2 linked regions of the Homo sapiens genome follow. The protein of the gene in region 2 purifies or fractionates together with the protein of the main gene of each other region. This does not show direct contact. Each region holds a gene or a part of one and is shown on either strand. Other genes may lie near its edges. The genes, in order: SEC24D and C9orf152.

The links.
Region 1: the proteins of C9orf152 (region 2) and SEC24D purify together in Homo sapiens (affinity purification with mass spectrometry; one large-scale study listed by BioGRID and IntAct). This does not show direct contact.

The regions. Positions count from the first base shown.
Region 1 is NC_000004.12:118,734,861-118,738,675, forward strand, and holds part of SEC24D (protein transport protein Sec24D), read right to left. Parts: intron 3,520-3,815; coding exon 3,401-3,519; intron 1-3,400. UniProt on the Homo sapiens protein: Component of the coat protein complex II (COPII) which promotes the formation of transport vesicles from the endoplasmic reticulum (ER).
Region 2 is NC_000009.12:110,205,301-110,209,852, forward strand, and holds the start of C9orf152 (uncharacterized protein C9orf152), read right to left. Parts: upstream 2,860-4,552; 5' UTR 2,280-2,859; coding exon 2,087-2,279; intron 1-2,086.

The sequences.
Region 1 (3,815 bases), on a different chromosome or scaffold from region 2:
GATTACTTTCTCAGCCAAGGAAAACTATGATAAAAAGATGCAGGAACCAGATAGATCGCCCCGATGCTATTTCTGGTCTAGTTACTAGTTAGCCATTTTACATGTTATCAAGATCAAGGATCAAGAATGTTCTTAGATTCCTGTATAAAGCATGTCCATTTGGTTTGAAAATATCAGATTGAAATTTCACTGGTTGCTTCTAATTAATGAGGTCATATTAAGAGTTCAGAAATCTGTGATCCTAAATACCACAAAGGGGTGAGGTTGGCCCACAATGACACTATTGGGACTAAAAAGTCTAATCAGAGGAGATTGGATTATAGAAGGCAGAGGGAAGAAAAACAGGTGGTAAATGAGAAGGAAAATCTAATCATGAAAACAAAACCAAAAAAATGGAGTTAAAGAATGAAAGAAAACAAGAAGACAATCTTATTCAATGTTTTTGAGGTGAGGAAGAAAATGTGGCCATGGATTACCACTGTAAAATCTCCCCACCCGACTGACCCCCTCCATAAATAACTAAATTATTCTTTGGGAGTAAAGAATGAGAGTGAGGTGGGAGCAGTAATTCATATAAGTCGAGCTTGCTTGAATTTGGAAAATTCTTTCCTTCTTTAGGTTTTAAAGTGACAGAAGTGGTAATGAGGTTTTTTTTGTTTTTCTTTTTTAAAAAGAAAGCTTATTTTGCAGTTAAGGTCATTTGACTTGCCTTTTGAAATGAATGCACTCCCATATGATATTGATATATTTAAGCTCAGAACAGTGAGATATTAGATTTAATTAAAAGAATCTACATTGCTTATGTAAGCCTTATAAGCCTTAAAGTTTGCTTTTTTTTTTTTTTTTTTAAAGATACAGGGTCTCACTTTGTCATCCAGGCTAGAGTATGGTGGCACAATCATAGCTCGCTGCATCCTCAAGCTCCTGGGTTCCAGGGATCCTCTTGCCTCAGCCTCCTGAGTGGCTGGGACTATAGGCATGTACCACTACACCTGGCTAAGTTTTTATTTTTAGTAGAGGTGGAGGTTTCGATATGTTGCCCAGGCTGGCCTTCAACTGCTGGCCTCAAGCAATCCTCCTGTCTTGGCCTCCCAAAGTGCTAGGATTACAAGTGTGAGCCACTGCACCCAGCCTAATTTATCTTGTTTCTAGTTATATGTCTTTTTTTTTTTTTTTTTTTTTTTGCCCACGCTGGAGTCGAGTGGCATGATCTCGGCTCACTGCAACGTCCACCTCCTGGGTTCAAGCTATTCTCCTGCCTCAGCCTCCTAAGTAACTGGGATTAGAGGTCCATGCCACCACGCCCAGCTGTTTTTGTATTTTTAGTAGATGTGGGGTTTCACCATGTTGCCCAGGCTGGTCTTGAACTCCTGACCTCAAGTGATCCACCTGCCTTGGCCTCTCAAAGGGCTGGGATTACAGGCATGAGCCACCATGCCCAGCCATATGTCTTAACCCAGCATCTATCATATGATCCTCAGAATGACAGCTTCCTTAGATTTTGTACCCTAATTGCCTTCTCTTGCTGCAGCCTAGTTTTGGCTCCAGCAATTCAGTAAAAGTAGTTCTACTGAGGTCCAGTATCATACAATCCAGATAGCTCCTTGATGGTCTTGCTTGGGTCAAGGAAACTTTGGGCTCTATGGTAAAATAGTGGAATTCCTTTAGGAATCTCTCCATCTTCATAGATATTATTTTTCACAAGTGAACTGTAGGAAAGTACCAAGTTTACAGTTAGATTTTCTGAAGAGAACATTAAGTCCAACTATTCTATGTTTTCAGACAATACTGTTTTAGAATCTCCACATTTTCTAGACTCCATGATGGTTAATCATAAGGTACTTAAGTTACATTATTTTTTAAAAACATATCATTGGTTGAAAGGCACACTTGAAAAGTGCTAATGGAAAAACCTCATTATAAGAACAGGAATAATCTCCTATCAACTTATTCAGAGAAAATTTATAATCATAATGTTTTAACTCCGGAAATCATTTAATTGTGCAAACAGGTTATCCAGTGGTAGAGGCAATGCTTTTAACTTTTAAACCAGAATAAAATAACAGGTTTTTCTTCCATAAATAGGCAATAAGTTTGTTTTTAACTTAAGGTCTTTGAATCCAGTTGTTTCAAAGTTAACAAATGAATGTCCAGAGAGGACACTAACTGTATCTGTACTGCTTCAACTAATGCTCCTGAAGTGTGAGATACTCCAGAAACAGAATAATGTTTCCATAGCTCTAAGACAAATAGTAAAATGAGGTAAATGTTTAAAGTGCTCATGATTGGACTGCATTCTGGCTAGATTCCAGGTGTACCTGGTGGGCTTTGTGTAACCTGAACTAGCATGCTATGAAATAGTACTGATATTTGAGTTGACTAAAATGGCAAATCTTCTGAATAATAAAGAAGACTGAATACTCATATAGATTCAGGAGTTGCTTATATGATTATCAACAGAAGAGATAAAAGAATGGATGACTAATTTAATCACTTTGGACAGCATGGAAAGGAACTTTTATGAAAAATCCATCTAGTAAGTGTGTTTGTTTTCTTTCTTTGCCCAGATTAAGAATTTGGACCCAAAATTTATCTGCATTATCTTTCCTGCTGAGGATTTACTTTTAGGTGGGGCTTCAGATGTCCTCTCAGCACTCACTTTTGACAATGAATGAACTAGAAAGTTTTCCCATCTATTGCTATTTTAGTTGGAATTCTATATTCACATATTTGATACACAGCTATAAAAAATGCCATCTAACTTTTATTGACATAGAGAAGAATGTGAACAAGAGAGCAAATGCAAAATAAATGTGGACTTGAGGTTCTGCTTTTCCTTTTATAGGAGAGAGACTAAATGAGGTTTATTCAAAGAATCTTCTAAAATTTCAAATTACTAGATGATGGAGAGAGTCAATTCTTTGAAAACTCTTCACACCTATTAATAACTTTTAAATGTAAAGAATTCCTGTATTTATATTTATAAATTATATTTGTTTATAAAATGTTATTACTGCCATCAGCTCATGTCAACTTTGTTAATATGCCTAAAATGTATTTAAGCATACACATTTCATAACAAAATACCCATCTCTGGATACAAAACAGAATCCTGTTTATATTAGGACACTTCTTACATATAACATTCTTTTGTTTATACATACCGTAGTGACTGTCAACTGAATATGCACATCCATTTTTTTTGTTCACATTTTTAAATGTTGGCTATAAAAAAAAAAACCACAGCCCCCCCAAATTGCATTCTTAATCTTCTCAGCTACACTGTTTACTGTAACAGCATCTAAGTGCCTGCAACATCATAAGCCTTCTATAGCTATGTGCTGAAGAAATGAGTAGTCGTTTGTAACACTTTAACATCTATGTGCAATAGGTAGCTCACCTGGCTTGCTGCAGAAGGACTTGCACAATTCTTCCGGTAACATGCCAACATATGGGCAGTCTGATTAACTAGAATTTCCCGGATGACCTTCAAAGGCTGGTGGAGAACTGCTTTAAAAGCTACATCACAAAACAATGAAAAGGACATGAGTTTTAGCTCAGACACTGATCTCTTCAAATAATCAAACAAAAAAGAACAAGTTGCTATTATCTTCAGACCACCCAGCAAGAATAATAGCATTTAAATCTGTTCAAGTCATTTGCTAATGGTCTCCTCTTGACTAAATATGATGATCTAACTAATGGAGAACATTGGCCTACCTACAGCAAAAGGTTATATTGGCCAGATTTACCTTCAGAATATTAGAATTGTACACACAGAAAAAAAGACAGGCCAATTTGTCATTTTTTGATGT
Region 2 (4,552 bases):
TTCTCAAGGAAAGATACCACCATCTATCCTGTTGCTAAAGTATAGGGGACAATTAATTGCTCTTTTGCCTCCTTAGTGCCATTTTCACCTTATTTTTGTCACCTTACTCTGATTTCTCCCTGGATAATTACCTACTCCTTCACATTCAGTGCTAGTGTTTCAAGTGGCCTTCCTACTTAGATACATGTGACATACGTGATCTTGTCCTCAGCCAGTCAGTGCATAAGGCCTTGATGAGCTTTATACATATTAGTTCATTTTATTCCTACAATAACCCTATGATTTGGGTACTACAGTTATTCCCAATTGACAGGTGAGGAAACTGAGCCCCAGAAAATTTATGTAACTTGTTTAAAGCTGCATATTAAGTAAATGGCAGAGCTGGGACTCAAACTCAGGCTGTGCTCCAAGACCCAGTACATGACCACTCCATTACACAGTATGCTGCCTCTCACAGTTAGATAAAGAATGTGGAACTCAGCCAAGTATGGTGGTTCACGCCCAGCACTTTTGAAGGTCGAGGTGGGTGGATCACCTGAGGTCAGGAGTTCAAGAGCAGCCTGGCCAACATGGTGAAACCCCATCTCTACTAAAAAAAATACAAAAATTAACCGAGCATGGTGGCAGGTGCCTGTAATCCAGCTACTCAGGAGGCTGAGGCAGGGAGAATTGCCTGAACCCGGGAGGCAGAGGTTTCAGTGAGCCGAGATTGCACCCCACTGCACTCCAGCCTGGGCAACAGAGTGAGAATCTGTCTCAAAAAAAAAAAAATGTGGAACTGCAAACTGCTGAAAGTGCCCTGAATGACCCTGACCTAGCTGGGAGGTCAGAAGTCTTCTCGGAGAAAGCCACACCTGGGCACTCCTTGCATGAACCATAATTTAGCACCTAGTAATGATGGGAAAGGGGGTACCGAGTTACCAAGAGCAGGAGAAAGGACGAGCACAGGGTATAGTGAATTCTCTGGGGGCATGTTGAATTTGAGATGTCTTTGGATCATCCCCACTAAGCAATTAGATTTGTGAGTCTGAATTGCAGGTGTATTAAGCATTGTGTTTCCATTTGATAGGGATTTAAATTGATAAATGTTTGTTGAATAACTGAATGAATAAATACCCTCAAGGGTGGGATAGAGCTTTAGGAACCTTTCAGTTTATGCCCTGCAGAGATGGTGACTGTTTGGCTGTGCCAGTTCACTCCTGCCAGGAACGAGGATTCCATTGGTTGGCAACAGCCCAGGTAATGGGAGATGGGCTCCTTCAGCTCAGAGGTGCCACTTTTGTTCCCAAAAGGCAGCACACTTCCTGCCCTAGACAGAGAGGTCCCTCTGGCCCCTGATTCCTGCCCAGTCTGGCCTGGCAAAGGGCAGCCCAAAGAGTCTACTGAACTCTACAAATAACCACAGAATCCCACAGAGCCCAGCTTTGACCTTTCAGGGTATCTTCCCTTCTCCCTCAACCTGTTCCTCTGTTAGAGGAGGAAGGGCTGGGATTTGACATGCCCTTGCTTTCTGAGCCCTGTGCCTCTAACTCCCTCCTGGAATGAAATCTGAGTTCCTAAAGGGAGGAGGTTTCTCCCCATGAGGGGGTTTCTGTGTCCAATCACACCTCCCTGCCTGATGTTTGAGGCTGGATGAGCCTGGGATGCCTCATGGGTCTCTGAGCCCTAGGCGTCCTCTGGCCCAGACAGTTCCCAGGCTGTTGGGAACGCCATGTCTTCTACCTCCAGAGTGAATTTCTCTGGTTTGTAGGAGGTGCCTTAGTTAGACCCAGCCAGGAAGCAGAGCTCCTATCGCCATACCTGGGCTAGCAGGGGGGCCAAGCCTGGCTCACCAGGCTGACCAGTCTAGCAAGATTAGAACATCAGAGCAGAGGCCAGGAACAGTGCTGGCAGCCAGGTGCTTGGCTGAGGCCCCTGGCTCCCTTAGCAGGTGGGACAGCTGAGCAGAGCTGCCCTGAGCCCGCCTCCCCTGCTCTTCCCCACTGGGAGGGAGGGCTGGCAAAGCCCTGGCTCTGCCTCCCTGCAGCTCTGCCACTCAGGTCTCCCATGGTAAGTCTCTCCTTCCCCAGCACCTGTCCATTCCTACCTTTTGGAAGCACCAGGAGGTGGGCCTGGGTCCTCTGCTGCCTCTTCAAGCCTTCATACTGGGCTCGCAGGAACTGGATGCTGAGTGGGGGCCCTTTCCCAGGGGCCTGAGTCCTGGAGCCCTCAGCCATTAAGTGAGACCTAAGCTGCCAGAAGTGGGGCAGGGCTGGGCACGGGCAGGGCAACCCCTCCATCCGGATCCGGGAGAAAAGCAAACACAGCTGGGTGGGGCAGGACCTGGGGAGGGGAGAGAGAGGGAGGGGGCAGTGAGGGAGAAGGAGAAGTGACGGGCAAAAGGAGGGTGGAAAGAGGAGTGGGACTGAGGAAGGAGATAGAAAAATAAGGGGGAAGGAGAAAGATGAAGGGGAAGAGGAGGTAGGGATAGGGAGAAATGTGGGGGAGGAGAAAGGTGGGAGACAGTGGCAGTAAGAGGAGAAGGAAATGTCAGAGGAAAGAAGGGGCAGCGAAGGGGGAAAGACTGGAGGAAGGAGGTGATAGTGACAAGCGGGGATTAATGGGGCGAGAGAAGAAAGAGAGGGAGGAAGATGGAGACAGGCAGGAGGAGGCAGGGAAAGGAGTGATGGGGAGTGGGAGACCGAGAAGTAAGGGGAGGACTGGGGGAGCAAAGAGAAAGGCAAGCCCAGCTGCTCAGAGCCCTTCAGGGGGGTCAAGAAGGTGTCTTATTCCAGGTCCTTCCATTGCTTGATCCTAAAGTTTAGAATCCAATTCCCAGTGCCACGGTGAAGTCTCCCCTTTCCTGGCAGAGCTGGGACTGGGGCTGGGGAGTGCTAAGCTCGCGCTCTGCTCACACATTTTGGACTGGAACGTGGCCACTTTTCAGCAAACCTGCCGGTTGGGTTTGCAGTAGTTCAAAGAACACCCTCGGGAGCTTCACAAGGTCGGTGCCTCTGGATGTGTGCCCCGCGGCCACACCCTAAAGAAACCCAGTAGCAAAGATCTCCCCAAGATCTCCACTCAGACCCCAACACACACCCCAGGTGAAAATTCAGCCCTAAAGTCAGCCATGGGACAGAGCCCAGGGGAATCTTGGCCTCGGGCCAGCCCTACCCCTTGGACATTTGGTGCAGCCTCTGCCGTCTCAGCATTCTCCAACCAAGTGGTAAGTTAGGCATCCCCTCACTCTCTGCTTGCCAGCCTCAACATTTCCACATTGCTTTTGAATCCCAGACCCTCTCCCTCTTACACCAGCTTTGACCTAGCCTTGCTGCATTTGGTCAACTAAGTCCCTTTCTATCTTCTCCTATCACGGTGCTTACTGATTACCCAATTACCCAATATGTCTACAGAGGCAATGGAAACAGAGTAGAGCCTGAACCTACAAGACATTTTGGACATTAACCAGACAAGATCTAGTCATTTGATGTGGGGGAGCCGTGGAAGATGGAGAGCAAATCTTCACTGGGTAGTATATGTTAGTTTTGCTAGGGCTGCCATAACGAAATCCCACAAACTGGATGTCTTAAACAACAAACATTATTGTCTCAGAGTTCTGGAGGTTAGAAGTCCAAAGTCAAGGTGTGAGCAGGGTTGGTTTCTTCTTGGAGCTGTGTGAGAGTATCTGTTCCATGCCTCTCACCTTGCTTCTGATGGTTTGCTAGCAATCTCTGGTATTCTTTGGCTTGCAAAAACATTGCCTAATCTCTGCCTTTATCTTGACATGATGTTCTTCCTTTTTATTTTTTTATTTTATTTTTTTTTTGAGAGGGAGTCTCACTCTGTCGCCCAGGCTGGAGTGCAGTGGCGTAATCTCAGCTCACTGCAAGCTCTGCCTCCCGGGTTCGCATCATTCTCCTGCCTCAGCCTCCCGAGTAGCTGGGACTACAGGCACCCGCCACCGCGCCCAGCTAATTTTTTGTATTTTTCGTAGAGACAGGGTTTCACCGTGGTCTCGATCTCCTGACCTTGTGATCCGCCCGCCTTGGCCTCCCAAAGTGCTGGGATTACAGGCGTGAGCCACCACACCCGGCCTAATATGATGTTCTTCCTATGTGGGTGTCTCTGTGCCCAATTTTCCCCTTTTTATAAGTACAGCAATCACATTGGATTAGAGCTCAATCTGTCTCAAAAAAATACCGAGAGAGATAGCCAAAGCTTCCTCATACCTTTTTATCGGTAGATCACTCTATCATGAAGGCAAGAGCAACCCATCCATGCTGGACCAGCTGCACCTGCCATGAAATCATGGCAGTAGACATCATGGCAGTAGGCTGGCCACAATGGCTCACAACTGTAATCCCAGCACTTTGGGAGGCTGAGGTGGGTGTATTGATTGTGCCCTGGAGTTCAGGACCAGCCTGGGCAACATAGTGAAACTCTGTATCTACAAAAATTAGCCAGGCATGGTGGCACATGCCTGTAGTCCGAGCTACTCGGGTGGCTGAGGTGGGATGATCACTTGAACCCAGAAGCTCGAGGCTGAAATGAGCCATGATTGCACCACTGTACT